Linked DNA regions of Homo sapiens: all the other regions are linked to region 3. Evidence: fine-mapped expression QTL. A gene starts in region 3. Each other region holds a variant in brackets. All regions are shown on one strand. Distances are between the middles of the regions.

Region 1 (6,075 bases), 28 kb before region 3:
ATGGATTCCTCAAAACATACAACTTAATTGATGAATAGGAAGATCCGCTCTCAAACTCTGGGACTCCAGAGCTTCCTCTGGATAGTTGAGGGCCTCTGCAGGGAAAACTCTTGGTGTTTCTACCTCTGGTTCTATCTAGGATGAATTGGGACTCATGAATGTTTGTTCTACCTCCTTCTACAGAGTATGTATTCCCGTGTGCCAGAGTGCCAGGTCACCACATACTATTATGTTGGGTTTGCATATTTGATGATGCGTCGTTACCAGGATGCCATCCGGGTCTTCGCCAACATCCTCCTCTACATCCAGAGGACCAAGAGCATGTTCCAGAGGACCACGTACAAGTATGAGATGGTAAGGGGGACTCTGCCTGCCACCAGTGGCCTTTCTAATCAGGGGGATCCTTGGCACCTATGCCAACCATTCTTGGTAAACACCATCCAAAATATTGCACTTTTAAGCCAGGAGTTCAAGACTGTAGAGCGCTCTGTGATTGTGCCTACTAATAGATCACCCAGCTGGAGTGCAGTGACGCAGTCACAGCTCACGTCAGCCTCAACCTCCTGGGATCAGGCGATCATCCTACCTTAGTCTTCCGAATAGCTGGGCTTAAAGGCGCACACAACAACACCGGCTAATTTTTTTTTTTTTTTTTTTTTTTTTTTGAGACGAAGTCTCTGTCACCCAGGCTGGAGTACAGTGGTGCAATCTCAGCTCACTGCAACCTCCGCTTCCTGGGTTCAAGTGATTCTCCAGCCTTAGCCTCCTGAGTAGCTGGGACTACAGACGCGTGCCACCATGTCCAGCTAATTTTTGTATTTTTAGTAGAGATGGGGTTTCACTATTTGGCCAGGCTGGTCTCGAACTCCTGACCTCAGGCGATCCATCCACCTCAGCCTCCCAAAGTGCTGGGATTACAGGCGTGAGCCACCACGCCCAGCCAAAATGAACTTTTAATGGCTAGCATACTCTTAGGAGTTTCTGTTGTGATGCCTGTTACCTCAGATCATTAACATCTTGATGATAAGGACTTGATGATAATATCTTTTGTTTCAGTTATATCCTCCAGCAGTGCCTACATTTATTTATTCAGCATCAGTATGCTGAGTGTTCACTGGGTTCTAAATGTTTTGATATAAGGTGTGGATATTGGTGGGAAGGAGGATGGGTTCAAGAATTGGGAGGAGCTTCCTAGGCAGAGAATATCATGAGCAAAGTGGTTGAGACTTGAAAGTGTGGTGATGCAGCCGCACAATAAACTGTTCTGGCTGGAGGGCAAGTAGGTAGTAGGAATTGGGTTATTAGATTCTGAGAACCTTCATTAACCCAGGTAAAGTATAGTCCTGTGTCATTTGATGCTGCAGATACATTCTGAGAAATGCATCATTTGGTGATTTTGTTGTGTGAACATCATAGAATGTACTTACACAAACCTAGATGGGATAACCTACTACATACCCGGGCTACATGGTATAGCCTATGGCTCCTTGGCTACAAACGTCTAGAACATATTACTGTACTGAATACCATAGGCAGTTGTAACACAAAGGTATTTGTGTATCTAAGATACAGTAAAAATACAGGATTATAATCTTGCAGGATCACCATCCTATATGTGGCCCATGGCCCGTTGTTGACTGAAACGCTGTTGCACGGCACATTACTATTTAGTCTATATTTCTGTCGTCATCAAGGTTGCATCAAAGGTTTTGGGTAACTCGATCCTAACTGTGTAAAAGGATTGACCTGCTAGTGATGTGTGGGACAAACTGGAGAGACTAAGACAGAGGTGCCAGTAAGGAATCCAGAAGATGGCTAAGGAGGATCTGGAGCTAGGATGGAAGTTAGGTAGATCTAGAGGGAGGATTGGAAGAGATGTTGGGGAAGTTCAATGGCTGGTATGAAACAACTGGGTAAGTCAAAGATCTGTGCAGAGAATGGTGAGGCCAGTTGGCAGTGGGGACCTCAGGAAGTCCGTCTCATTTGACCCAGTACCACTCTCCACCCCATCCCCAGATTAACAAGCAGAATGAGCAGATGCATGCGCTGCTGGCCATTGCCCTCACGATGTACCCCATGCGTATTGATGAGAGCATTCACCTCCAGCTGCGGGAGAAATATGGGGACAAGATGTTGCGCATGCAGAAAGGTGACCCACAAGTCTATGAAGAACTTTTCAGTTACTCCTGCCCCAAGTTCCTGTCGCCTGTAGTGCCCAACTATGATAATGTGCACCCCAACTACCACAAAGAGCCCTTCCTGCAGCAGCTGAAGGTGTTTTCTGATGAAGTACAGCAGCAGGCCCAGCTTTCAACCATCCGCAGCTTCCTGAAGCTCTACACCACCATGCCTGTGGCCAAGCTGGCTGGCTTCCTGGACCTCACAGAGCAGGAGTTCCGGATCCAGCTTCTTGTCTTCAAACACAAGATGAAGAACCTCGTGTGGACCAGCGGTATCTCAGCCCTGGATGGTGAATTTCAGTCAGCCTCAGAGGTTGACTTCTACATTGATAAGGTATGCCTGTCCCCTGGGCTTGGGGTCTTGTATTAAGTGTTCAGTATCTTTCATTCACTATTGTGGGCACATGAAGTATATCGGGGAACAAAAAGATTCCTGGCCTTGTGGTGCTGCCACAAGGTGCCAGGTGTGGTGGCTCATGCCAGTAATACTAGTACTTTAGGGGAGGCTGGGGTGGGAGGATCACTCTAGCCCAGGAGTTCAAGACCAGCCTGGGCAACGTAGTGAGACCTTTTCTCTATTAAAAAAAAAAAAAAAAAAACACAAGAGATAAACAATAGATGGTTTTGTTTTGGTTTTTTTTTTGAGATGGAATTTCGCTCTCGTTGCCCAGGCTAGAATGTGATGGCACGATCTCGGCTCACCGCAACCTCCGCCTCCCAGGTTCAAGCCATTCTCCTGCCTCAGCCTCCTGAGTAGCTGGGATTACCGGCATGTGTTACCATGCCCAGCTAATTTTGTATTTTTCGTAGAAATGGGGTTTCTCCATGTTGGTCAGTCTGGTGTCAAACTCCCAACCTCAGGTGATCAGCCAGCCTTGGCCTCCCAAAGTGCTGGGATTACCAACAATAGATGTTATAATTAAACAATAGATGTTATAATTAAACAAACTATGTAGTAAGAAGTTGCCAAGCACTGCAGAGTAAAGGAAGGCAGAGGTGGTGGGAAGCACAGGTTGCAATGTTAAATACGGTGTTCAGACAGGCTTTGTTGAGAAAGTGAAGTTTAA[G/C]CTAAGCTAAGACTTGAAGGAGGTGAGGGAGTAGTGTTTTGGTTTTTTTTTTTTTTTTTTTGACAGTCTTGGTCTGTCGCCCAGGCTAGAGTGCAGTGGTGCAATCTCGGCTCCCTGCAACCTCCGCCTCCCAGGTTCAAGCAATTCTCCTGCCTCAGCATCCTGAGTAGCTGGAATTATAAGAGGCCGCCACCACACCTGGCTAATTTTTGTATTTTTAGTAGAGACAGGGTTTTGCCATGTTGGCCAGGCTAGTCTCAAACTCCTGACCTGAAGCGATCCATCTGGTGGAGAGTTCTTAATAGCTCACCAAAGGCTGGACACGGTGGCTCATGCCTGTAATCCCAGCACTTTGGGAGGCCGAGATGGACAGATCATGGGGTCAAGAGATCAAGACCATCCTAGCCAACATGGTGAAACCCCATCTCTACTAAAAATAAATTAGCTGGGCATGGTGGCGCATACCTGTAGTCCCAGCTACCCGGGAGGCTGAGGCAGGAGAATCACTTGAACCCAGGAGGCGGAGGTTGCAGTGAGCTGAGATCGCTGCACTGCACTGTAGCCTGGCAACAGAGCGACACTCCGTCTCAAAAAAAAAAAAAATAGCTCACCAGATATCTGGAGGAAGAGCCTTCCAGGCAGAGGAACAGTTAGAGCAAAGGCCCCGAAGAGGAGTGAGGCCAATAAGTTTAAGGGACAGTTGTAGTATGCCCGAGTAGCCTGAGAAAGGAGGCTGTGAAGATGAGATTGGAGAAAGGGGGATGGTGCTTTGTATACTGTTGGAGTACTTTACAAGTGGGAAGCCATTGTCCTGCTGCCTTCTTTATTTTTTTATTTTTAGTTAGCAATAATCACACCTCACATAACCCTCATTGGCCATACTGCCACTGCACAAAGCTTTTTTTTTTTTTTTGAGATGGAGTGTCATTCTGTCGTCCAGGCTGGAGTGCAGTGGCACGATCTTGGCTCACTGCAACCTCTGCCTCCCGGGTTCATGCGATTCTCTTGCCTCAGCCTCCTGAGTAGCTGGGATTACAGGCTCACACCACCACACCCAGCTAATATTTTGTGTATTTTTAGTAGAGACAGGGTTTCACTATGTTGACCAGACTGGTCTCCAACTCCTGACCTTGTGATCCGCCCGCCTCGGCCTCCCAGAGTGCTAGGATTACAGGCGTGAGCCATCGCGCCCGGTATTATTTTATTTTTATTTTATTTTATTTTATTTTGAGATGTCTCGCTCTGTCGCCTAGGCTGGAGTGCAGTGGCGCGATCTCAGCTCACTGTAAGCTTCACCTCCCAGGTTCACGCCATTCTCCTGCCTCAGCCTCCCGAGTAGCTGGGACTACAGACACCCGCCACCACACCTGGCTAATTTTTTGTATTTTTTAGTAGAGACGGGGTTTCACTGTGTTAGCCAGGATGGTCTCAATCTCCTGACCTCGTGATCCACCCACCTCGGCCTACCAAAGTGCTGAGATTACAGGCGTGAGCCACTGCATCCGGCTCTCTTTTTTGAGACAAGGTCTCACTCTGGTTGCCCAGGCTGGAGTGCAGTGGTGTGATCTCAGCTCACTGCAGCCTCAACTTCCTGGGTTCAGGTGATTGTCCTACCTCATCCTCCCAAGTAGCTGAGATTACAGGCGCACGTCACCACGACTGGCTAATTTTTGGTATTTTTAGTAGAGATGGGGTTTGGCCATGTTGCCCAGCCTGGTCTCGAACTCTGATATGTGCCACTGTTCCCAGCCGATTTTAAGTTTTTACTTTATAGAAACAGGGTCTCACTTTGTTGCCCAGGCTAGTTTCAAGTGATCCTCCTACCTTGGCCTCCCAAAATGCTGGGATTACTGGTGTGAGCCACTGCGCCTGTCCTGTCCTGATGTCTAACATCTTGGATTAGTGCTGCCTGTTTGTGAACTTTATATAATGGAATTACACAGTATGTACTCTTTAAGTCTGGCTTCTTTTGCTCAACGTTATAATTGAGTGAGTCACCGTCCATTGTGTGTAGCAGTGATTCCTTCATGTTTATTGTTCTGTGATAGTCCAGCATCTGCTGTTGTTATTGTACTGCAGTTTATCCATTCTCCCATTGATTAACGTTTGGATGGTTTGTATATTACAAAAAATACAAGTAAGGTTTTTACAGAGTGGCTAGTAATACATTTATATATGCCTATGTATGCCTCAAGTTCTTTCCAGAAGGATACACAAGCAACATAGCAGTAGCTTCCTCTCAGGAGGGGAGGTGGGTTGAAGAACAGTGTTAGTTTTCACTGGCACTTTTAAGTTCAAGCTGGACATTTTAATGTCTGATGAGATTTTCATTTTTATTTATTTATTTAGAGACAGAGTCTCATTGTATCACTCAGGCTGTAGTGCAGTGATGTGATCTTGGCTCACTGCCACCTCCGCCTCCTGGGTTCAAGCAATCCTTCTGTCTCAGCCTCCTGATTAGCTGGGACTACAGGCGCTGATGAGCTGATGAGGTTTTTAAAAGAATTGTTTTCTTTTTTTTTAGACTGAGTCTTGCTCTTGTTGCACAGGCTGGAGTGCAATGGCACAATCTTGGCTCACCGGAACCTCTGCCTCCCGGGTTCAGGCGATTTTCCTGCCTCAGCCTCCCGAGTAGCTGGGATGTACAGGGATGCGCCACCATGCCCAGCTAATTTTGTATTTTTAGTAGAGACAGGGTTTCTCCGTCTTGGTCAGGCTGGTCTCGAACTCCCGCCCTCAGGTGATCTGCCCGCCTCGGCCTCCCAAAGTGCTGGGGTTACAGACATGAGCCACCACACACGGCCGTCAGCCCAGGTTTTCTAAGATCA
Region 2 (6,075 bases), 160 kb after region 3:
CCTGGTTTACTCCCTGATCTCCCGTGGAGAATATCCTCCTGTAGCTTTCTGAGAAAGGGCACGTGGGATGTCAATTTTTTGAGACCTCGGGTCTGTCTTTTTTGGTCATTGTGGTTCCCATATTCCTTTCAGTTGACATTTTGGCTCATTCGATTCAAGAATGAACGTCAAGGTTGACAGTAATTCCTGTGTGGAAGTGTGATGGCCTTGTCACATTGTCCTTTGCTGTCACATGGCTATTGCCATTCTTATTGGTGATCCTTTATTTGTGATGTGTTTTATTTCTGATCTGTGAGAACTTTGAGGACTTTGTTTTTGTCCCTGGTGTTGGGAGGAGTCGTGATGGTAGCTGCAGGCACAGGCTTTTGTTTATTGTGCCAGATCCTCAGAGGGCGTCATCGGGAACACCATGTCCTTCTTGTCATGTATCTCGATGATGACATCCTGCTTTCTGTATTCTCTGTTCTGCTTTTTTCTATTTTTTTATTGTGGTAAAATTTACCATCTTAACTTTTTTTTTTTTTGAGACAGGATCTTGCTCTGTCGCCCAGGCTGGAGTGCAGGGGTGCGATCATGGCTCACTGCAGCCTCAACCTCCTGGGCTCAAGCGATCCTCCCACCTCAGACCCCCGAGTAGCTGGGACTACAGGCACGCGCCACCATGCCTGGCTCATTTTTGTATTTTTTTTGTAGAGACAGAGTTTTGCCATATTGCCCAGGCGATCTTCCCACCTCGGTTTCCCAAAATGCTGGGATTACAGGTGCGCACCACCGTGCCCAGCCCTTGGTCTATTTTTGAATTAGGTTGTTTGGTTTTTGTTGTTGAGTTTTAAGAATTCTCTACAAAGCACAATCGGCTAAGAGGAAAAAAAGAAAAAAGAGTTTTAGGAATTCTGCATATATTCTGGATATTAATCCCTTATCAAAAATGTGATTTGCAAATATTTTCTCCCATTCTGTGGGTTGCCTTTCTTTTCTTCTCTTCTCTGTTCTTTTTTTTTTTTTTTTTCGAGACAGTGTCTCACTCTGTTGCCCAAGCTGGAGTACAGTGACGGGATCTCAGCTCACTGCAGCCTCTGTTTCCCAGGCTCAAGCGATCCTCCCACCTCAGCCTCCCAAGTAGCTGGGACTACAGGCGTACACCACCATGCCCAGCTAATTTTCGTGTTTTTTGTAGAGACAAGGTTTTGCCACATTGCCCAGACTGGATGGTGTATTTTGATGCACCAGTTTTAAAATTTTTATGAAGTTCAATTTGTTTATTTTTTGTTACTTGGATCTTAGGTGTCACATCCAAGAAATTACTGTAAACTCCAATGTCGTGAAGGTTTTGGACTAGGCATTTTTCTGAGTTTTATAGTTTTAACTTTTACATTTAGGTCTTTGAACAATTTTGAGTTAATTATTATTATTATTATTATCTTCGAGACAGAGTCTCGTTCTGTTGCTCAGGCTGGAGTGCAGTGACATGATCTCGGCTTACTACAACCTCCACTTCCCAGGTTCAAGCGATTCTCCTGCCTCAGCCTTCTGAGTAGCTGGGACTGCAGGCGCCTGCCACCATGCCCAGCTAATTTTTGTATTTTTAGTAGAGATGGGGTTTCGCCATGTTGGCCAGGTTACTCTCGAATTCCTGACCTCAGGTGATCTGCCTGCCTTGGCCTCCCAGAGTGTTGGAATTACAGGTGTGAGCCACTGCGCCTGGCCTTGAGTTAATTTTTGTATGTGGTGTTAAGTAGTGTCAACTTCATTTTTCACATACCATTGTTGAAATGACTGTCCTTCCCCATTGAATGTTCTTGACACCCTTGTCAAAAATCATTTGATGCCGCCGGGCACGGTGGCTCACACCTGTAATCCCAGCACTTTGGGAGGCCAAAGCAGGTGGATCACCTGAGGTCGGGAGTTTGAGACCAGCCTGACCAACATGGAGAAACCCTGTCTCTACTAAAGATACGAAATTAGCCGGGCGTGGTAGCGCATGCCTGTAACCCCAGCTACTCGGGAGGCTGAGGCAGGAGAATTGCTTGAACCCGGGAGGCGGAGGTTGCGGTGAGCGAGATGGCGCTATTGCACTCCAGCCTGGGCAACAAGAGCGAAACGCCGACTCAAAAAAAAGAAATCATTTGACTATGTATTTGAGGCAGGAGAATTGCTGGAGCCCAGGAGTTCAGTGCCACAGTGAGCTGTGATCACGCCACTGCACTCCAGCCCGGGTGGTGAGACGCTTTCTCAAAAAACGAGAGCAGAGGGTAGAGTGGAAGACAGAGCCAGGCAGTGGTCAGGTGTCTTCCCAGGTTCCATCTTAGCCCTCCCTTTCTTCCCCCACCACTCTCCTTATGCACCCACAGGTATTTGACAACACCCCAGCAGCCTTGGACGGCACAGTGGCAGCTGGCGATGAGATCACCGGTGTCAATGGCAGGTCAATCAAAGGGAAAACTAAGGTGGAGGTGGCGAAGATGATTCAGGAGGTGAAGGTAAGGGCTGCTGCAGAGCAGGTGTCCAGAGGCAGCAACACATGTTTCTGAGACCTCCAGGCTGCCAGAGGTCCCAGCAGGCCTGGAAGGGGGTATCAGCCCTCACCGCCCCCTTCCTTGTCATGTGCAGGGTCAGGGTCACACTCCAGCCTCCCTCATCCATCCCTCATTCATTCAATAAATACTAATCGTGCTCCAGGACTTGTGCTGAACCTTGGCAAGAGAGTGGGCAGCAAGACCACAAGGTCCCCATGAGCTCCCAGGGAGCTGACAGACTTGGAACCACCCCTCAGGCAAGCCCATGTGTCCCCAGTCAGTGCCAGAGCTGAAGCTAAAAGTCCAAGGTGATCCTCCCTGGGTCAGTAGACACCCAATAATGTCAGCCGGGTCACGCTGGGCCTGTGAGGGCTAGGAGGGAAAGAAGAGTGCCCTTTCCCC[A/G]TCCTGTAGGAACTTTCGGTCCCACACAGCCTCCTGGGCTCATAGACACCCAGAGACCCCCCTCCCAGGCCAGCTGATCTTCTGCTCTACAGACCAGAGTCACACACTGCCTGCCCCGCTTTCCCCCACCCCTGCCGCTCCAGGACTGGAATGGCAGGCGGCATCCCGGCCTCTCCTGAAGCGAGCATGCAGCCCCTTTGCCATTTCCTAGCGAAGTGGCTGCTAGCTAGTCTCAGGAAACCAATACTGTGAAAGAACTGATGTGCAGGCAGTGCACAGCCATGGGGTGATTTGAAAGTCTCGGGGGCAAGGGTCCCCACTGTGAGTTCAGCTTGGCCAAGGGTGGCAGCTACCTCCCTCAGCCCCACTTCCATCCTCCGGGTTCTGGCACTCCTGATAGTCCGCCTTCCTGCCTTAACCCAGGCCAGCCGCTGCTCCATCCTCTCTCCCCTTTATCCTCCTGTCCTGCTCCTGAGTAGTCCGTGCTTCTCTCCTTCCTTGCTGTAGGAAGAGTCCCATCCTGCACATTCTCCTATTCCAGCCCCTTTAGCCATAGGACAAATCAGGGCCTGGGGCTGGGGCTCAGAGCTCTGTTGTAAAAAAAGGAAGCAGCAAGGTTCATTGAGACCCCACAGCTGCCACTCCACGTGGTCTGGGTATCACTGCCTCAGGTATGACCTGTTAGGCAGAGGAGCTGATCATGGGAACAGGTGCAGGGGGTCTCGTTCTGGCCGAGTTGGGTTGTGTGTGCCCCATTTGGCAGCCCTTCCCCCCTCCGCATCTCCTCCCCATCTCCACTCGCCAGGTCCCTCCCTGTCCTCTCAGGCTTGGTCATACCAGCACCTCAGGTTGCCCATGAGGACAAGAGCTCTTTGTATTTGCACACAGCCATGACAGGGATGCAGCATTGGCCCAGCTCCCCTGTTTGGGTGCTGGGCAGGGATTACTCTCCCATCTTACAGGTGTCCACAGGCGGGGAGTGACCTGCTTGTGGTCACACAGCTGAACTGGAGCCCGGGCCCGACTCCCACTGCAGCCCGCTTGCCGTTGGCCTACAGCTGCTCCCTGTGGGGTGGCCCCTGAGCACGCCTGTGTTTCATTCTGCGGGAGCAGTTCACACCCCACCTCTGACTCTGATTGCATCTGCTCATTTTGGTTTCCCTTTGGGACTTGATTTTAAAATCCTGTTTTATATTTGGATGAATGTGGTCCCAAGTTCAAGGGCTTTTGGTTTGCAAGGATGAGAGTGAACACAGCGCCCTCCCGTGCTCAGGCAAGTCCTCTTGGGAGAAGCCTTTGTCTCCTGAGCAGTCGTTAGAAAGTGGTTTGTGTAATTCCCTGATTCGCATCAGCCTTGCGGGGCTGGGGCTGCCCCTGCCCCTCCCCTTGGTGCCCCAGCACCAGGCACAGAGCAAGTGCTCAGATGTGCTGTTCGATGAGTAGAGGGATTCCTGGGGATGGGGTGTTTTGGGGTGGAGGAGGGAATAATCAGTGTAGGGAAATGACACGGCAAAGGCTTGGAGTGTGGTTTGCGTGGGGAGGGAAGAAGGAGAGCCTGACCTGGCCGAAGCACAAGACATCAGAGACCGCCAGGCTGTGGGCCCGGTGCCGGCCCTGTCCCCACTGATTCCCCAGGGCTTGGATGTAGAGTAGGAAGGGAGGGGCCTGGGATCAGACAGGGTCACAAGGTGGGGCCATGTCACAGCGCTCAGCCTGGCCCTTACTGGGGCTTAGGATTCTTTTTTTTTTTTTTTTTTTTGAGACAGAATCTCATTCTGTCATCCAGGCTGGAGTGCAATGGTGTGATCTCAGCTCACTGCAACCTCCGCCTCCCAGGTTCAAGTGATTCTTTGCCTCAGCCTCCTGAGCAGCTGGGATTACAGGCACGCGCCACTACGCCCAGCTAATTTTTGTATTTTTAATAGAGATGGGGTTTTGCCATGTTGCCCAAGCTGGTCTCAAACTCCTGACCTCAAGTGATCTGCCTGCCTCAGCCTCCCAAATTGTTGGGATTACAGGTGTGAGCCACCGCACCCGGCCTTGGGCTCAGGAGTCTCAGTCCAGAACAGTCTTGGCTGGGAAGGGGCTCAGGGTGTGGAGCCTCGCTCACTAGTCTGTGTGTGCTGCTCTTCCAGGGGGAGGTGACCATCCACTACAACAAGCTGCAGGCGGACCCCAAGCAGGGCATGTCCCTGGACATTGGTAAGCTGGTCAGAGCAGTTACGGGTGTCCAGCAGCCTCCCTGGATGGGCCCTGGCCCAAAGGAGAAGTGCCACAGCCAGCCCTGCCCTCCCCTTTATGACAGGAGAATCCAGAGTTACATGGCTGTGGGCTCTGACCTCTGACCAAGCAAATCTGAAAGGCCTGGGAGGCCTCCCGGTGCTCTCCCTGCATCTGTTCTTGTACTCTGTCCCTGGTTTCTCACTCCCCCGCGTTTCACCCCTACCTCCCTGCTTCTGCCATCTCCTCTGGGGACTTGCTACCCTAGGGTTGTCCTTTGCAGGCCAGCGCCTCGGCTTCCATGGCCCAGGGCCTCACTCTTCATAAAGGGAGAGCAGCCTAACCCTGGCCTGGCGCCTCATGCCCTCTAGCACAGCGCACTCCTCCCTGGCCTCTCCTGCCATCAGCTCCCAGGGGGACTCTGGATCTGAACTGGACCTCAGGCATTGGGCAGAGGGTCTGCGCCCTGGGACAAGTTCCCTCCTGTTAGAGGGGCTGAGCCTCGGTTCTGTAGAAACTTTAAGACTCAAGAGCTGGACAGCAGCTTCGAGTCCTCTGGACCGGCCGCTTCACATTATGGATCAAAGCCTGAGACCCAGAGAGGGCGCTGCAGCCCCTGGTGAGCGCACACCTAGGTCTCAGCTCTGGAGCCCAGCAATCCCCTTCATACACCCTAGGGCCAGAGGCCAAGGGGCTAAGGGCAGGCTGGATCTATCTGGGAGCTCCCTCCGAAACCCTCTGGTTCCAACACAGGACTAAGTCCCCTTCCTAGGACTAAGCTGGTCAGATGCAGTAACTGAGTCTGGGGTCCGAGCTTCATGGTCATTGATGGTGCCCATTACTTTCACATAACCAGCCCAGGGGCCCCTCTTCTCCCCCTCCCCTTTATGTGACACCCTAGGTCCTGATGTGACACAGAGGAGGGGAAGAGGCCTCC
Region 3 (6,075 bases):
CCTTGGCTCCCAAAGTGTTGGGATTACAGGCATGAGCCACCGTGCCTGGCCCCATTTCTTAATTGATAGTTAAAAATAAAACAAAACAGCACTGAATTAAGGGCCCAAGTCTCTCAATTCTAATCCCGAAATTATAGCATGATTTTGGGCAAGTGCCCTACTCACCTATCTCTGTGGCTTCTGATCTCACCTGTAAACACACAGACCCACCTTCCACCTGAACCCTGGATTTACAGTCTGCACAGCATTTTCTCATCCATTATCTCACCTTGTTACCCACAACCCTGGGATTCAGGCAAAGCAAGTATTATCATCCTCATTTTATAGGGTAAGAAATTGGGGTTCATGAGGGTGAGTTGTCTGGCCTGCGGTCACACACTGTGGTCGTACAGGTCCTTACTTCGAAACATTGTGAGCTGACTCAGATAATGAGTTTATAAAGCCCACAAATGGCTAATGGGGGTGACCAGGCTGTGCTGTGTAAGCTATTAGTATGGCAACAGGATCAGATATGGAGCTGTCTTCAGGGACCTAAAGGGAGCCCTTTAGGCTAGTGAGGACAGGGCTATAATCCCTCCTGGTTTCTTTTGTTTGTTTTTGGTTTTTTGTTTTTTAAATGGAATCTCACTCTGTTGCCCAGGCTGGAGTGCAGTGGTGCGATCTCAGCTCACTGCGTCCTCCACCTCCCGGGTTCAAGCCATTCTCCTGCTGGGATTACAGGTGTGTGCCACCACGCCCAGCTAATTTTTTGTATTTTTAGTAGAGATGAGGTTTCACCGTGTTAGCCAGGCTGGTCTCGATCTCCTGACCTCGTGATCTGCCTGCCTTGGCCTCCCAAAGTGCTGGGATTACAGGCGTGAGCCAAAAAAACCCACCATCTTTGAGATGGAGTCTCGCTGTGTCCCCCAGGTTGGAGTACAGTGGCGTGATCTTGGCTCACTGCAACCTCCGCCTCCCAGGTTCAAGCGATTGTCCTGCCTCAGCCTCTCGAGTAGCTGGGACTATAGGCACGTGCCACCACGCCTGGCTAATTTTTTTATTTTTAGTAGACACGGGCTTTCACCATCTTAGCCAGGCTGGTCTTGAACTCCTGACCTCATGATCCGCCCACCTTGGCCTCCCAAAGTGCTGGGATTACAGTGAGCCACCGCGCCTGGCCCAATTTTTTGTATTTTTAGTACAGACGGGGTTTCACTATGTTGGCCAGGCTGTTCTCAAGCTCTTGACCTCAGGTGATCCACCTGCCTCGGCCTCCCAAAATGCTGGGATTACAGGTATGAGCCATGGTGCCCAACCCCGCCCCCCTTAGGTTTTAATGAGAGTCCTGGGTGGTCTTTGAAGGCCTAGGTGGATGCTGGTGTCAGGATCCTGAACCCAAGTCCCTGATTTCATAAAAAGCATCCGGAATCCTGCTTTCCTGCCACTGTTATCCCACAGGGGACAGGGCAGGAGTTGGCAGCTCAGGGCTGGTGAGAAGTCCAGAGGGCTAGCCAGGCACTCTGGCCATGCTCTTCCTAGGTGGCCTGAGAGTCCATATACTGAGCCAAGATGGCGGCCTTCCAGTTGCAGGAGTGTTAGGCCAGCCCAGATTGGCAAGCTGGGTTCTCCAGGCCCTGGGCCAGTATTCTGGACTGGGACTCAGTGGACTTTGAAGAGGTAGAATTCCCTAAGTCGGCCTCTCTCCTTGATAATTTACCCAGAATGGCCCAGATGACAATCTGGGTACAAAATATTTCAGTCCATTTCATCATGTTTACCAAGTACCAGGAGTCAATAGAATTTATGAGTGATAACTAAAGGGTAAGGCACTTTACATCTTAATCCTCTCAGCCACCTTGTAAAGCAGGTATTATCTCCATTTTTAAGTCGTGGAAACTGAGGTCCAGGGAGGCACAAGATCACATGACTAAGGGAGTGGGGAAAGCCAGGATTGGAGATTGGGTTAATAGGGCTCCAAAATGCCTGATCTTTCCACTCCCCTGAGTGCTCAGGGGTGATGAAGATGACTAAGACCCTGTTCCTTCCCTTGGGAGGGAGCGAAATACCCACTCCAGCTAACTATTGCATGGGTCAGGGTGACATCACCACCTCTGCAGCAGATGGAGGCTGATTCATCTGTGGGAGAGTCAGGAGGGGCCTCTGCGGAAGGGTCGGCTGGCTGGAAGGGTTGGCTGGCTGGAAGGGTCGGTTGGCTGGCGGGGGTTTTGAAGACGGCAAAGATAGAGAATGAGCCTTGGGGAGGTTCCAGGGCCAGATACAAACTGCCTGTATGCCTCCCAGGCAGGGGCCTCCTTGGCCTAGGTCCTTCCCATAGGAACTCAAACCACCACCACACTAACCATGGCTGAGGGGACCCGGCAGGCCGCAGTGGGGAGGGACGAGATCCCTGAGCTTACACAGGGGCTGAGGGGAGCTCAGTGAATCACCTAGGGGACACCTGGACCAAAGGTGGCGGAGGGGCGCATGGGTCTCCCTGCCAAGCTATGGGGGAGGGGATGGTGGACATGACAACTTCCAGCTCAGCGGTGCTTTAGGGTGGGGAGCCGGGATGAGGGAAGCTGGTGGCTATCCGGGGGGGGGTGCTCTGAGGTCTGCAGGGGAACTGCCTCCCCAAAGTTTCAAGCTAGGGGTGGAAGGGGGGATTTGCGGTCATTAGGAGCGGGAAGGAGGCCGGATGGGAGCACGAGGTGTCCCGCCTCCAAAGGGTGGAGGGCTCCCGGTGGGTGGCGCGGCGGCGGCCGCGGCGGTGAAGTCATCGTGGGGAGTGGTCCGCTTGCGGCGGGTGCGGGGGCTTCGCGGGCACCCAGTGGAGCAGCGGGAGCCCGGCGCCGTCGAGGGGCGGGCGATGGGGCGCCGGCCCGTCTTGGTAGGGGTGGGCTCCGCACTGGAGGCGGAGCTGCTGCTGGGTGGGGCGCGCCTCCGGCGCGGACGGAGGCGGCGGGACGCCCGCTCCCACGACCGGCCCACAATGAGGCGAGCGGGCAGCGCGGAGTAGGCGGCGGCCGGCCGGGCCGGGCCACGCGGCGGCGCTGCTCGGGCAGGTTAGGGCAGGGCCGCGGGGCGCCCGAGCGAGGACACCGCGGCCCCGCCTCCGCCCCTCCCCTCGCCTGCCGGTCGGCGCCCGAGCTCGGAGCCGCAGCCGCAGCCGGAAACCGGGCCCGCGCGGCGGCCGCCGTCCCGGCCAAGCCGGGGCCCCGAAGCCAGAGCCGGAGCCGGGCGGGCCGCGGGGTCATGGCTGGGCCGCGGGGCGCGCTGCTGGCCTGGTGCCGCCGCCAGTGCGAGGGCTACCGCGGCGTGGAGATCCGCGACCTGAGCAGCTCCTTCCGGGACGGCCTGGCCTTCTGCGCCATCCTGCACCGGCACCGGCCCGACCTGCTGTGAGTGCGGGGCCCCGGGCGAGCGGGCGGCGCGGGGCGGGCTGGGGCCGCGACCGCCGCCCCCCCTCAGTAACACGAAGCCCGGGCGGTGACAGGCGCCGCCCCCGGACACGGAGACGCCGACCCCCCCGACGGCCCCGGACGCCGGGCGGGTCCCTGAGACCCCGGCCCAGGGCGCCCCTCCCCCGCCCGGCCGCCCTGACCCCGCCCGTGGGATCCCGAACTCTCCCCCGAGGCTGGTCCCTCCGCGGGGACACTGGCCCCGCCCACAAAGCGCTGATTTCCGCCGAGGATCGCTGAACCCCTAAGCCCTTGACCTCTTTGAAGGGGTGTTGAGCCCTCTTTGGGGGCCCTGGGCCTCTCCTACCCTAAACTCTTCTCCACGGGCTCGCCGGGCCTCCCCTCTCCCCCGAGGCTTCCCACTCGGGGTGGCCCCTTGCTCCGGGTGTGCAGGTGAACCCCCACTTCTCTGACCCCCAAATAGGAGCTTGTCTCCGGACAGTAGCACAGTTCCCGGCACAGAGGAGACCTCGGCTAACAGGTGTTGGATGAATGGATGTACAGACCCTGTGCTTTCCCCACGCCCCCCAACTTAGGACGCAGCCCTGCCTCCCGGGTGTGTGCTCGATGGCCCTGCAGCCCTCCTCAGTGGGGCACGCAGGTGGGGCGCGCAAGAGGAGTCACAGGCCGGCAATGTTGGGAAGACTCCTAGGATCCGATTGATAGACACCAACCGGGTGCTGCAGGTTGTGAAATGGCCCCTTCCTGCCCAGAGCTGCCCAATGAGGTTCTCATGGGAAAATGCATTCAGACTCCCCGGAACAGTTGACTTGGAGCCTCTGTCTTTGCTCTCTCTGCCTTGAGCCCTGGAACCTCTCCTCCTTTCGTCCCTTCATTCCTAAAACACTGGGTGAGTTTATCTGGTGCCATTCCTTGCACTTCAGGTCTCACCTGTGAATCAGGGAGGAGAGTTCTGGTCCCTACCCCTTTCGCATGCAGCCCTCTTGCCAGGGCTCCCCCAGCCTGGCAGATGGAGGCTTTCTGTGCCTGTTCCACCTCCAGATTTGCACTGTCCGAGGGCAGCATGTGGGAAGGCTTCTAAGGGATTGCCTCAGGATTCCATGATGCAGGTGCACCTGGTTTACCTGTATGTACCCTGCAGTACCGTGTCTGTGGGTGGTGGCTTGGGCCCTGGAGGAGAGGGTTTTGGGGCTGTGGATACAGAAGGGAACAAGATGAGGTGGTCATGTAGGTGGGCCCCTGCCCGCTGTGGGGCATGTGACACCCATACTAATGGAAGCACAAGGTTGATGCCTGGTTGCCCAGGAGCAGGGGGTAGAAGGATGGAGGAAAAGGGCACCAGGGTTAGACCTGGGCATTGGAAGGGAGGGCCCAAGGGGTCTTCTGTTTTGTTTGAGGGGCAGGAGTGAGGCAGGAAGCAGGGACAAACCCAGTGTGGGAGGGGACTTGGGTGTGAAGTGAAGCCATTTGGTGGGCCTGAGCCTGGTGGCATCAAAGTAAATAAAGGCCGCCTGGTTTGTGTTTAGCTTCTCCATGTCTTAGGCGCATGGCCTTGGGTCCTCATGGGCTCTCTCCAGGCATCAGTGTCCTCATCTGTGAGGTGGGATTGATAATGTGACACAGCTCACAGAAATGTGAGGATTGCATGAGATAACAAGCATTCATTTAACATTAGTTACTGTGAGTAACTAATGTTACTTTTTTTTTTTTTAATGTTTTTTATTTTTTTGAGATGGGGTCTCACTCTGTCACCCAGGCTGGAGTGCAGTGGCACAGTCATGGCTCACTGCAGCCCCCACCTCCCGGGCTCAAGCAATCCTCCCACCTCAACCTCCCTAGTAGCTGGGACCACAGGCACACGCCACCACGCCTGTCTAATTTGTTTGTATTTGTAGAGATGGGTTTTCACCATGTTGCCCAGGCTGGTCTTGAACTCTTGAGCTCAAGTAATCTGCCTACCTCAGCCTCCCAAAATGCTGGGATTACAGGCATGAGCCACCATGCCTGGCCCAATAACAATGTTTGATTTCTTCATTTATTCAACCAGTATTTGTAGAGTCATATTGCTCTGTGCTGGACACTGTACCTGGTAATGGAAGTACCAATCGACAAAACAGGCAACCCTACACGCTCTCCCACACCTGTAGGGGAAACGTGTATAAACGATGATGGCAATTCCATGTACCCTATCAGAGGGCTGGGGGTGGGAGACCTCCTAGGGAGAATATAGTCTTCAAGGAGATGGCAGGAGCCAGGTGAGGGCTGCTGGGTGGACGTTCTGGCATGGGACCCCATCTGAGCAAAGGCAAGGGGCGGGAGGTGTGTGCAAAGCTGGAGGCTGTGTAGCTGAGTGGGGAGCACAAGGTAGCGAGTTGGGAGATGCAGTTGGGACAGATGGCTGACAGCTGCTTTTGCTGGCTAAGGAGCATGGATAGGGGCCTCAGGGAACCATGCAGGGTTTTTTTTGTTTTTGTTTTTGTTTTTTTGAGATGGAGGCCTGTCACCCAGGCTGGAGTGCAGTGGCGTGATCTCGGCTCACCACAACCTCTGCCTCCCGGATTCAAGCGATTCTCCTGCCTCAGCCTCCCAAGTAGCTGGGATTACAGGCACGCACCACCATGCCTGGCTAATTTTTGTAGTTTTTAGTAGAGATGGGGTTTCACCATGTTGGCCAGGC
Region 4 (5,932 bases), 980 kb before region 3:
GGCATTTTTATGTTGTTAATCAATGATTTTAGCATTTTTTTAAATTTAATATTTCATCGCTTCACATTGATTCCTGATTCCTTCTCAGTCTGGGGTCAAGTAGAGTTTGTTTCCAGCCAGCATGTCCATTGATAGATTCTGTGTGTGTGTATGTGTGTCTGTGCATGTATCTGTATGTGTGTGTGTATGTCTGTGTGTAGGTGGTATATGCGAGTGTGTATGTGTGTGTGTGTTGTGCATGTATGTGTATGTGTGTCTGTGTATGTGTGCCTCTGTGTGTGAATTTCTGTGTATGTGTGAATGTGTGTGCATGTTTGTGTGTATATGTGTATATATGTGTATATACATGTATGTATCTGTGTTGTTCATGTGTGTATGTGTGTCTGTGTCTCTGTGTGTGTGTTTGTATGTGTGTGTGCATGTTTGTGTGTGTATATGTGTGTATATTGTATGTATCTGTGTGTGTCTGTGTCTGCCTCTGTGTGTGTGTCTGTGTGTGCATTTGTGTGTATACATGTGGGTATGTGTGTGCATGTTTTGTGTGTACGTGTATATATGTATGTATCTGTGTGTGTCTGTGTGTTGTGCGTGTGTGTGCCTGCGTGTGTCCGTGTGCTTGTGTGTGTGTGTGTGTTTGCATGGGCATCTTGAGTGAAGCTTCCAACAATCTAACAGAAGAAAAGGAGCCACACTTGTCTGTTCTGCTCTCTTGGGTACTTCCCAGACCAGTGAAATGAAAGGGAGGAAACCCCCGGCCTCCGAGGAGAAAAGGGAACTGGCAAGCAGAGGGTGGGGGGATGACGGTAAAAGGAGCAGGGGTGGGGAGAGCACAGGCCCTGTGGAAGTGAGGACATGTGTGTGTACATGTGTTCATGTCCAGGGGATGACACTGTGGCATCCAACAGCCGTGGACCAGCAGCCCACGGGGAGCTTAGTAGGAGTCAAATCCTAGGCCCCTGTCTCAGCTGCTCTGCTGTCTAGCGCATTGTGCAGTGGTAGGTGTCAGTGATCCAAGTGGGGACCCAGTCCCTCAGGCCACACAGCGCATGTCCATTGCCTTCATGCCGCAGGAGACTGAGAGGTCATGCATGAGGGCCACTTCTCTGGGTTGTCCCCACAACACGGGCGGTGTCCCTGGGACACGTGGAAGGGGAGGGGCAGCTCACTGCTGACATCTCCTTCTGCAGGCCTGGAGGAGGCAGAGGCCAGGAGGGAGAGGTCCCAAGAGCCTGTGAAATGGGTCTGGCCTGGCTCCCAGCTGGGCAGGAACACAGGACTTCAGGACACTAAGGACCCTGTCATGCCCATGGCCAGCACCCACCAGTGCTGGTGCCTGCCTGTCCAGAGCTGACCAGGGAGATGGTGCTGGCCCAGGGGCTGCTCTCCATGGCCCTGCTGGCCCTGTGCTGGGAGCGCAGCCTGGCAGGGGCAGAAGGTGAGTCCCGTGGCTCCCACCCACTTCCCTGTCCCTGTCCTCACTGCTGCACCCTGGGGGAGGGCCGCAGCGTATCCTCAGGATCCTGCCCGCCAGCCCTCCTCCTGCTCCCCTCCCTCTGTCTCTCCCCCTGGCCTTCCCTGGGCCTCCCCCGCTTCCCTCCTCCTGCACATTCCTGCTCATCCTGTCTTGGAAAGTCCAGCTGAGCGTGTCTGGCTTCCTTGCCCACATTTCTCAGGGCGGCACTCCCGGCCCCTAGGCTCCAGGATGGCTGCTCTGGCCGTTTCCCTGCCCCTCCTTCCCCAGCAGACACTCTCTGTGCCTCAGTGGTTCCCACCTCCGGGACTTTGCTCCTGCAGGGCCTTGGCTGGGGTTCTCTCCCTGCTTCAGCCGCTAGCACCCTCCTTGTGCCTGAAGCCCGCACTGGGATGCTCCTGGGCTCTTGAGGTGAAATGGCCCCTCCCAAGGGCTCCCAGAGACCTGGCTTCTGTGATAATGCTGGGACCACAGTCCCCTTAACAAATACCAGGCTCCTGAGGACGGGGACTAGAGAGGAGGTGGGAGGTTGCAGGGTAGAACTCTGCCACGCTGCATCCCAGGGCTGAGTGTGTGCCCCCTCCCAGGCTGCACAGTCGGTCCAGGGGCCAGGCCTGTGCTTGATGCATGTCCCTGTCCTGGGGTGGGGGGAGGGGACCGTGCCCAGGAACAGCACACTGCGGAGGCCCAGAAACCATGCTGAGAACCAACAGAATGTCTTGCTTCTGCCAGGAGAGGAGGGTCCGCAACCAGGAGCCCACCCCGGCAGACATGAACACATGTACATGTGCCTGGCCACCTGGTGCCTCTGCAGGGACCTGGGAGACCCCTCCCCAGAGCGGGACATCCCAAAGCAGCTGGGGGTGATGGTGACAAGGGTCCCTGCAGGAAAGAGAGGTGACCCCCTTCTACCCCTCTTGTCAGAAACCATCCCGCTGCAGACCCTGCGCTGCTACAACGACTACACCAGCCACATCACCTGCAGGTGGGCAGACACCCAGGATGCCCAGCGGCTCGTCAACGTGACCCTCATTCGCCGGGTGAATGAGTGAGTGATGCTGGGGGCAGGGGCCACGGGCAGGGGCTACGACGTCCCCTGTGCCTGGCATGGGGCGACAGTGTAGAGAGGGACCTGTCAGGTCAGCCTCGGGGTGGGAGTGGACAGAGGACAGAGGAGGAGGGAGGCCCTGCAAGAGCTCCTGCTCCGCCAGGCACCTGCGAGGCCGGGTGCTGCCGTCTGACCTGGGGTTTCTGCGGAGTGCCTCCTACACTGATGTTGGTGACAATGGTGGTGGTGGCAATGGTGAAAATCTTCTCTTGTTTCATCACAATTTAACACAATTGCCCCACATGACCTATCTTAGTTCCTCCTCACTGTGAGGTGGGCAGGGCCAGGCCACGAAGCCCCAGCTGTGCCACTGCCTGCCTGTCCAGAGTAGACCAAGGAGAGATGGCGCTAGCCTGGGAGTTCACAGATGGGAAAACTGAGGCCCTGGAGGTGAGGTGCCAGCCCTGGCCACGGGGTAGACAGTGGCAGAGCAAGCTGTGTGGACGTGTCTGGGAGGGGGCTCCGCGCTCTCCCAGGCCCCCCCTCCGTATGTGGGCTGCCACCTCTCCCACCCAAGCTCTCCTGGGCACGTGCCACAAGGGAAGGGGACCAGAATCGCTCTGGGGTGTTGGCCAGGGTCTAAATCAGCCATAAATTAAGTAATTAAATAGCTGGAACCAGAGAGGCAGATGACAACCCATTGGAGGTCACCCCAGCGTTGGGGGGCGGGGCCGGCTCTGCCACCCCCACCCCTCCACCGCCTTCAGTTCTCCAGGGCGTCTCTGTCGGACCTTCTCCATTCTCCTCAAAGACCATCCTGCCCCTCCCTGTGACCTGCTTCCTGCTGCTCTGACACAACAGGGGACCAGGGAGAAGCTCCCCACCCACCCCACACTCACACTCCCCACCCCCTTTGCCCACCGCCGGGGCCTGGGCCTGGACCAGGGCTCCTGTCTGAGGCCTGAGACACGATGCTGTCTGGTCCTGTTGCTCAGGAACATCACGGCCCCCAAGTCCCCACTCTGCCCTGTGCCACCCACCATGCCCTCTCCCAGGATCTTTCCCAATTGCCTTGCAAACCTGCCCCAACCCCCTCTCAGATGCCCACAGGAGTGCAGCGCCTGGGCATCTCCTGACCTGGCAACCCTGCGGCCCCTCTTTCTCTGCTTCCTTTGACAGCAGCATTCCCTAAAGAGTTGTCCACATTCACCACGTCCAGTGTCTTTCCAGCCATTTCCTCCTGGGCCCACTCCCCTAGGATGCTGCCCCCACCAGGCCACCCAAACTGCTCTGGTCCAAGTCAGCAAATGTCCCAGGGAGCAGGATCTCATGGTTGGGCCTCCGCCTTCTTCCTACTTGACCAGGGGCAGCCCCTGACAAGGAGGACCACCGCGGCCTCCCTGCAGTTTCTCTTGCACCTGACTCTGCCCACAGCTCACCCAGTGCCCCCGGGGCCCTGCCCA[T/C]CCTCCTCTTTCTCCTTGTCTGCTGCCTCCTGATGGCAAGACACCCAGGCCCAGTCCATGGACCTCCTCTCTGCTGTATCCACTCTGCAGAGACCCCCTCAGGCCCCTGGGGCATCTCCCAAAGGTGACCTCAAGCCCACAATTCCCCTAAGCTCCAGCCCTCCAGGCGTACTGGCCTCTCCACCTGTCACTTAGACAACAGGTGTCTCCGACTCCAAACGTCCTCAACCAAAGTCCCGCTCTCACCCGAGCTGCGCTGCTGCCTCTGTCTTCCCCATCTCCCTTTCTAAATGGGAGCTCCTAGTGGCTCAAACTAAACAACAGGGAGGATTTTGTTTTGTTTTTAAGTCTCTTTTGTCACCATTCCTTCCTGACTGCTACATCCCTCCACCAGCAAATGCTGCCAACCTTATCTCAAGCAGAACATGAATCTCACCCACGCCAGCCTGACCACCCTGTTGCACGCCACTTCCTGTCACCTGAATATTCCAGAAGCCTCGTAACTGGGCTCCCTGCTTCCAACATTGCCACATTCCCACCTCAGTCTATTCGCAACCGAGGACCCTCAGGAATCCTTTCAAAGCATTTATCAAAATCTACAACACCTCTGCTCATGACTGTTTCCCACTCACTCGCAGTGAGATCCAATCCCATCATGTAGATGGATGGGTCTCCTAGACCTCCCTATCACACGCTCTACTCCCTGCGCACTGGTTTTAGGCCAAGCCACGCAGCACACCAAACTCTGCCTGTCCCAGGGCCTTTGCACGTGCTGTTCCCATTTCCTGAAATCCTCACAATTTGCACAGTCCCTCCCTCAATGCCTTTAACATTCTGCCCCCAGGTCACCTCCTTAGAGAAGCCTGCTTGTCCCATATTTCAAATTGCCTCCCTGGCCCAGCCCTTCCTCCCTCCTCACCTGCTTCTTGCTTTATTTTTCCACATGAAGTTCTCTCCACTGCACACGCTACACACTTTGTTCCATGCGGGTCCCCTTCTCCCAGGATGGCAGCTCCGTGGGCAGGATTTTTGTGTGTTTTATCACTGCTGGCCCCTGATTCTGAACAGAGCCAGGCATGTGGTGAGCACTCGAGGAACCTTTCGTGAGTCAGTGATACCCATACACCCTGGGCTAAGCCGTGTCCTCTCCCAACAGGGACCTCCTGGAGCCAGTGTCCTGTGACCTCAGTGATGACATGCCCTGGTCAGCCTGCCCCCATCCCCGCTGCGTGCCCAGGAGATGTGTCATTCCCTGCCAGAGTTTTGTCGTCACTGACGTTGACTACTTCTCATTCCAACCAGACAGGCCTCTGGGCACCCGGCTCACCGTCACTCTGACCCAGCATGGTGAGGGGCTGGGGGCCCTGCCCGGGGCTTGGTTTCCTGTGTGGACAGCGGGGGCACCAGGGGTGGTCCAGGGAGTCTTCAAGGCAGAAGGCTGTGGCTTGGGGTTGGGTGAGGGTTTCTTGAGGGATGAGGGTATGGTCTGGTTACATGGAGACTTCAGAGCAGAGGGGCCCCTGACAAAGGCTTCTCCTGTGCCCCTGGCTGCTACCACCTCCCACTAAGCCATGGGCTTCCAGCACTGCAGGCTTGTCTTGAAGAAAACCGTTCTCACCACTCACTTAGAAACCTACCAAGTTAGAAAACTCTGTCCGCTTAGTTGTTTCATCTCATCTCTGAAGCAACCCATTTCCTGGATGTGGCCCTTGAGGCCCAGGAGGTCAGATGCCTCCTCTGAAGTCCCACAGCTGAGCAGTAATGACAGAGATGGGGTCAGCCTTCCCGGGGGCTTCCTGCATGGTAGACAGGGAGCTTGTCTCCTCGCTGCCCTGGAGGAGGGGCCCCGGTGTGGGCCGAAATCCCACAGTGGTCCATGAAGCCATCTGTGGTCTAGGGTGGGGTAGATGATTATTTTATGTAGTTAGGTTTTATTTGCCTCTATATTAG
Region 5 (6,075 bases), 220 kb before region 3:
CCCAATAAAGGCAGCTGCCTCTGCTCCCTCTGAACCAGCCTCGTGTGTGTGCTTGTGCGTGTGTGTGTATGTGTGTGCATGTGTTTGTGTGTGTGAGAGGGGTCCCCCACCTCCAGGCCTGCCCCCTTCCTTCACTTCCATTCGCTTTGTCCACGGGTACCTCCTCAGTTCCAATGACGTCTTCCGCTGGGTCCCCCAGACAAAGCACACAGAGTTTGGCACATAGTAGGAGGGTCAGTGACCACTGAATAAAAGTCAGTCCCTGCCCTGAAACTGTTTTTAGCCTAGTGGGCCCTAGCACACAGCAGATGCTCAAAGGATGTTGCATAAATGACATCAAGGGGGAAAGAGGCAAGGACAGACCAATTCGTGTGTAGTGACGGGGCAGAAGACAGGGAGGTGGAGGGAAGAATACGAGACCCCTCTCATTTGCCTTCATGAGCTAGAAAGAGATTTGGAGTCAGACAACAACGGGCTGCCAGCTATGTGGCCTTGTGCATGTTAACTGACCTCTCTGAACCTCAGCTTATTCCTTTATAACAAGGAGGATAACACAAACAGCCTATCAAAGAGTTGTTCCAAAGACCAGTCACTTCTTGGCCTTCTGGCTGAGATCAAGTGGAGATTAAATGAGGTGTTGCATGAAAGAAGCCAAGTTCAATACCTGGCATATGGTAAATGCTTAGTGGATAGTGGTTTCCCATACCTCGTGCACGGATTATTTTTTTTTTTATTTTTATTTTTTTAGAGATGGGGGTCTTCCTATGTTGCCCAGGCTGGAGTGCAGTGGTTGTTCACAGGCATGATCATGGCATACTGCAGACTCAAAGTCCTGGGCTCAGGCAATACTCCTGCCTCAGCCTTCTGAGTAGCTGGGACCACAGGTGTGTGTCACCGTACCCAGATCCCTGCACCACTTTTGAGGTGCTATTACTCCAATTGAAGGGGAAGAAATGGGCTCTGATTGATGAAATGACTCCCGGATCTGTACCAGGTCCAGCTGAGCCTGCGGGGCTCCTCAGGGATCCCGGCTTTGTGGGCTCAGGCCATGCACCCCACTTTGCTAGACTGTATGGGCAACCAAAGGACTAGTCTGGAAGCTGCCGGCTCTCATTCCTGGGCAGATGCCCCCACCCCAACAGTGGGTTTGGGTGATGACCCTGGCACCCCATTGCCAGCCCGTTTCTGTGGTAGGAGGAGCTGGGGTTGGGGGCTACGTCAGCCTCTGCAGAGAACCAAGAGGTAAAAGCCAGCCAACATGAGGCCCAGCCTCCAGACTCCCGCAGCCTCCTCCTTGGGGTACAGAGTAGGGGTGACTCACTCAACCTGAGATGAGGTCTCCATGAGCCTGTTCTCTCCTGGTTTCCAAAGACAGTGTCTCCTCCAAGACCAGCCCAGGCTGTTACCTTGGAGGGTAATGCTTAACCCAACCCCATCAAACCCACCCATCACAACTGCTGGGGCCTGAGTGGACGGCTAGGGTGCCCTGCAGACTGACTACTTCCCTGCACCTTTTCCTTCCTGCTTGCTGCTGCAGTCAGATCTTCCCAGGGCCCCTACCTCTCTGGGAACCAGCTGCAGGAACTGAGCCAAAGTTCAGAAGGTTAGAATGAGAACATCATTAGGCTCCCCCATAACCCCAAGGCACAGTCTCCTGAGGCATGGTGCGTGGGTGGGGGGGTCTTGGCAAATCTCACTTTCTAGGGCAACTGGCACCAGCTGTGAGTAGGTCTCTTATACACCCAGCCTCAGTTTCCTCATCCATAAAATGAGACCCATTTTGGGTAGATGATTTCCATCTCAGTGGGTGCCCTGGGACCTGGGTGGAAGCGGGGGTCATGTATCTCTCTATGAGGTCAAAGAGGATGGAACACACATGCTGAGAACTCCCATGAGCCACACCCAATCTCCAGGCTCTCCTGGGGCTCCCAGGTGGCCACCCAGAAACAGCTTCAGAAGCCTGGCTGCAGATGGAGTGCCCTCTGCTGGACATTGGAGAACACGTCCCCCAGGCTGCCCTGCCTTGTCCTCAGTTCACCCACATTGATTCTCCCCTACACTGGCTGACACTCACAGGACACTAGGACTGGGGCCACAACCGGGCAGAGGAAAGTCCTGGGGCAGGTAAGAGAGGCCACTGGGTGTGGAGGAAGGAAGCCCGGCTCAGCGTCAGACAGACCTGTGTTTAAACCCCAGCTCTGTGGCTGTGTGCCCTTGGACCAGTTATTCAACGTCTCTGAACCTCAGTTTCCTCATCTGGCAAACTTTGTTAAGACTGCACTAGTTGGCCAGGCACGCTGGCCCACGCCTGTAATCCCAGCACTTTGGGAGGCCGAGGTGGGTGGATGACCTAAGGTCAGGAGTTCGAGACCAGCCCGGGCAACATGGCGAAACCCCGTCTCTACTAAAAATACAAAAATTAGGCCGGGCATGGTGGCTCACGTCTGTAAATCCCAGCACTTTGGGAGGCCGAGGCGGGTGGATCACCTGAGGTCGGGAGTTCGAGACCAGCCTGACCAACATGGAGAAACCCCGTCTCTACTAAAAATATAAAAAATTAGCCGGGCATGGTGGTGCATGCCTGTAATCCCAGCTACTTGGTAGGCTGAGGCAGGAGAATGGCGTGAACCCGGGAGGCGGAGCTTGCAGTGAGCCGAGATCCCGCCACTGCACTCCAGCCTGGGCGACAGAGCGAGACTCCGTCTCAAAAAAAAAAAAAAAAAAAAAATTAGCCGGGCGCAGTGGCGCGTGCCTGTAATCCCAGCTACTCAAGAGGCTAAGGCAGGAGAATCGCCTGAGCCCGGAAGGCAGAGGTTGCAGTGAGCCGATATTGCGCCATTGCACTCCAGCCTGGGTGACAGAGCGAGACTCCATCTCAAAAAAAAAAAAAGACTGCACTAGTATTGGCTGGGTGTGGTGGGTCACACCCGTAATCCCAGCACTTTGGGAGGCTGAGGCAGGAGATTCATTTGAGGTCAGGAGTTTGAGACCAGCCTGGCCAACAAGTGAAACCCCGTCTTTACTAAAAATACAAAAATTAGCCGGGCATGGTGGTGCATGCCTGTAGTCCCAGCTACTGGGGAGGCTGAGGCAGGAAAATCACTTGATCCCGGGAAGAGGAGGTTGCAGTGAACCGAGATCATGCCACTGCATTCCAGCCTGGGCGACACAGCAAGACTCCGTCTCAAAAAAAAAAAAAAAAAAAAAAGATTAGCTGAGGTGATGTATAGAAATGCATGGTGCCTGGCACGCAATAGGGGCTCGGTGAGTGTTGGTTCCCTTCACCCCTTTTAAGGCTTGGTGTGTCCCAAGGGCCTAG[G/A]AAACTAGGTCCAGATAAGTTAAGTCAATCTCTGTCCTTAGGCCACCTGCGCCCCACCCTCAGCACCTGTTTTTGCCTGTGTGACCTCAGACAAGTGACTGCACCTCTCTGAGCCTCAGTTTCCTCCTCAGTAAAATGTGGATTGTACCTCAAAAGAGATCATCATAAGCCAGGCACAGTGGTGGGCACCTGTGGTTCCAGCTACTCCTGAAGCTGAATGGGGAGGATCGCTTGAGCCCAGGAGTTTGAGACCAGCTTGGGCAACATAGTGAGACCCTCATCTCTATAAATAAATAAATAAATAAATAATAAAATCAATAATCTAAAGAGAGTAAAGAGCTAAATAAATGTCAGCTGCTCTTGTTACTCTTTTTCCTCATTAAGTTTATCATCACTTCTTTTCTTATTGTTTTTGTTTTTTGTTTTGAGACAGAGTTTTGCTCTTTTGACCAGGCTAGAGTGAAGTGGCGGGATCTCGGCTCACTGCAACCTCTGTCTCCTGGGTTCAAGTGATTACTCGAGTAGCTCAGCCTCTCGAGTAGCTGGGATTACAGGCATGCACCACCACGCCCGGCTAATTGTCATATTTTTAATAGAGATGGGGTTTCATCATGTTGGTCAGGCTGGTCTGGAACTCCGAACCTCAATTGATCCACCCACCTTGGCCTCCCAAAATGCTAGGATTACAGGCATGAGCCACTGCGCCTGGCCTGTTTTTTTTTTTTTTCTTTTTTTTTTTCAGAGATGGGGTCTCACTCTGTCACCCAGGGTGGAATGCAGTGGCATGATCACAGCTGCAGTGCAGCCTCAAACTTCTGAGCTTGAGTGATCCTCCCACCTCAGCCTCCCAAGTCGCTGGACTATAGGAGTATGTCACCACGCCTGGCTAATTTTTAATTTTTTGTAGAGACAGGGTCTTACTATGTTGCTCTACTGTCTGTCGCCAGGCTGGGGTGCAGCAGCGCAATCTCGGCTCACTGCAACCCTCCCGGGTTCAAGTGATTCTTCTGCCTCAGCCTCCCAAGTAGCTGGGACTACAGGCGTGTGCCACCATGCCCAGCTAATTTTTGTATTTTTAGTAGACATGGGGTTTCACCATGTTGGCCAGGATGGTCTCGATCTCTTGACCTCGTGATCCTCCCGCCTCAGCCTTCCAAAGTGCTGGGATTACAGGTGTGAGTCACCGCGCCCGGCTTGAGCCTTCACTTTTCATCTCCAACCACTCTGGGTGGGAGTGGAGCCCTGGCAAACCAAGCAGGTCGAAGCCTGGGACTGGGAGGAGACAGACCAGCTGCAGAAGGTGACTCTCTGGGCACCTTCAGCCAGGGTGATGCCTCTACCCAGGAAGGTGCCAAGGGTGGCTTTAAGGCACTGCCACTAAGGGGCAGAAGCAGCTGGTCAGAGGTGCAGTCCAGCACCCTAAGGGAGCCCCCTGCATTGCTCTGGGCCACAGAACTGAAAGGCCAGGCCTGTAGTTTAAGGGTAACTTCCAGCTGGGCGCGGTGGCTCACGCCTGTAATCCCAGCACTTTGGGAGGCCGAGGTGGGTGGATCACCTGAGGTCAGGAGTTTGAGACCAGCCTGACCAACACGGAGAAACCCCATCTCTACTAAAAATACAAAATTAGCCGGGCATGGTGGCACATGCCTATAATCCCAGCTACTAGGGAGGCTAAGGAAGGAGAATCGCTTGAACCTGGGAGGCGGAGGTTGCAGTGAGCCGAGATCGTGCCATTGCACTCCAGCCTGGGCAACAAGAGTGAAACTCCGTCTCAAAAAAAAAAAGGTAACTTCCTCTCAGGATCCCACATAGATTTCCCAAGCAGAGGAGCTGTATGGAATGAATTCAGCATTCTGGAGTGCTGCACTTACTGCCTGCCTCCTTCCAAAACTCAGAGTCAGGGTACAAAGATCAGCTGGGCGTGCTGGCAGGTGCCAGTAATCCTAGCTACTCAGGAGGCTGAGGCAGGAGAATTGCTTGAACCTGGGAGGCGGAGACTGCAGTGAGCCGAGATCACAACACTGCACTCCAGCCTGGGTGACAAGAGCGAAACTCTGTCTCAGAAAAAAAAAAAAAAAAAGCGGATGAAGGATTCTGGCATACAATCCAAGTGACTAAAAATCCCCTTCAGGCGTTGTTTCACTGCAATCTTTCACAACCATGCCCTCATTCTCAGTCAAGGATGTTATTATACACTCATTCCACCTTTGGGCAAAGTGAGGCACAAAGAGGGAAGATGGCTTGTGCAGAAAACACATGTATGCGTGCCTTATGTTAGACAAACTTTACATAATTAACTTCCTCACAATCACAGCTGTCAAGGTTTAGTCCACGGACCAGCAGCATTAGCATCACCTGAGAACCTGCTAGAAACGGAAATCCACTCAGAAACCTCTATCGGATCAGAAACTCCGGGGTGGGGCCCAGCGATCCAGGTTTTTAGCCCTCTAGGGGATTCTGATGTATGCCAAAGTTCCAGAACCAGTGTCTACAACAACCCTACGAAGCTACTATACTTTCCCTTATTTTACAAATAGGGTGAGGCACCGCGAAGACCATTGGTCTGGGACCACACAGCTGTAGGTGTGATGCCAGTATACAAATCCAGGCAGTTTGGCTCCCTCTTGGAGACTACCAACGAGTTGACATCAGCATCTAAAGTAGGGGCCAGCACGGTGGCTCACGCCTGTAATCCCGGCACTTTGGGAGGCCGAGATGGGAGGACCACTTGCGGTCAGGAGTTCAAGCAGTCTGGT

Which allele goes with the higher level. Positions count from the first base shown, and alleles are read on the strand shown. Sizes are in standard deviations (SD) of each study's normalised expression. Not every link is listed here.
In carriers of allele T in region 4, the expression in neutrophils of the gene that starts at base 3,106 in region 3 tends to be higher than with C alone (moderate effect, 0.46 SD a copy in BLUEPRINT).

The links.
Region 1: its variant is fine-mapped to the expression of MICALL1 in whole blood (TOPMed, PIP above 0.99).
Region 2: its variant is fine-mapped to the expression of MICALL1 in whole blood (TOPMed, PIP above 0.99).
Region 4: its variant is fine-mapped to the expression of MICALL1 in neutrophils (BLUEPRINT, PIP 0.95).
Region 5: its variant is fine-mapped to the expression of MICALL1 in whole blood (INTERVAL, PIP above 0.99).

The regions. Positions count from the first base shown.
Region 1 is chr22:37,875,658-37,881,732 of GRCh38, forward strand. It overlaps EIF3L (eukaryotic translation initiation factor 3 subunit L), which reads left to right. Exons shown (of 13, transcript NM_016091.4): 10 at 184-354; 11 at 2,017-2,514. Among named protein-coding and RNA genes, the nearest start is that of MICALL1, 28 kb to the right of the region's middle. RefSeq lists a silencer at 4,421-4,580. The variant G/C (reference allele first, on the strand shown) is at 3,248.
Region 2 is chr22:38,062,651-38,068,725 of GRCh38, forward strand. It overlaps PICK1 (protein interacting with PRKCA 1), which reads left to right. Exons shown (of 13, transcript NM_012407.4): 4 at 2,352-2,480; 5 at 5,054-5,120. Among named protein-coding and RNA genes, the nearest start is that of PICK1, 8.3 kb to the left of the region's middle. The variant A/G (reference allele first, on the strand shown) is at 2,919.
Region 3 is chr22:37,903,192-37,909,266 of GRCh38, forward strand. It overlaps MICALL1 (MICAL like 1), which reads left to right and starts at 3,106. Exons shown (of 16, transcript NM_033386.4): 1 at 3,106-3,377. The coding sequence starts at 3,232. RefSeq lists enhancers at 1,797-2,612, 2,613-3,428, 3,429-4,244, 4,245-5,058 and silencers at 2,719-3,438, 3,549-3,658.
Region 4 is chr22:36,920,849-36,926,780 of GRCh38, forward strand. It overlaps CSF2RB (colony stimulating factor 2 receptor subunit beta), which reads left to right. Exons shown (of 14, transcript NM_000395.3): 2 at 1,188-1,435; 3 at 2,396-2,519; 4 at 5,139-5,329. The coding sequence starts at 1,360. LOC105373023 (a long non-coding RNA gene) reads right to left here and starts at 5,095. Exons shown (of 2, transcript XR_938230.2): 1 at 4,902-5,095. RefSeq lists enhancers at 641-1,020, 1,440-2,010, 4,656-5,855. The variant T/C (reference allele first, on the strand shown) is at 3,983.
Region 5 is chr22:37,679,769-37,685,843 of GRCh38, forward strand. LGALS1 (galectin 1) reads left to right here. Exons shown (of 4, transcript NM_002305.4): 4 at 1-34. Among named protein-coding and RNA genes, the nearest start is that of NOL12, 3.5 kb to the right of the region's middle. RefSeq lists enhancers at 1,691-1,890, 1,745-2,245, 5,594-6,075. The variant G/A (reference allele first, on the strand shown) is at 3,320.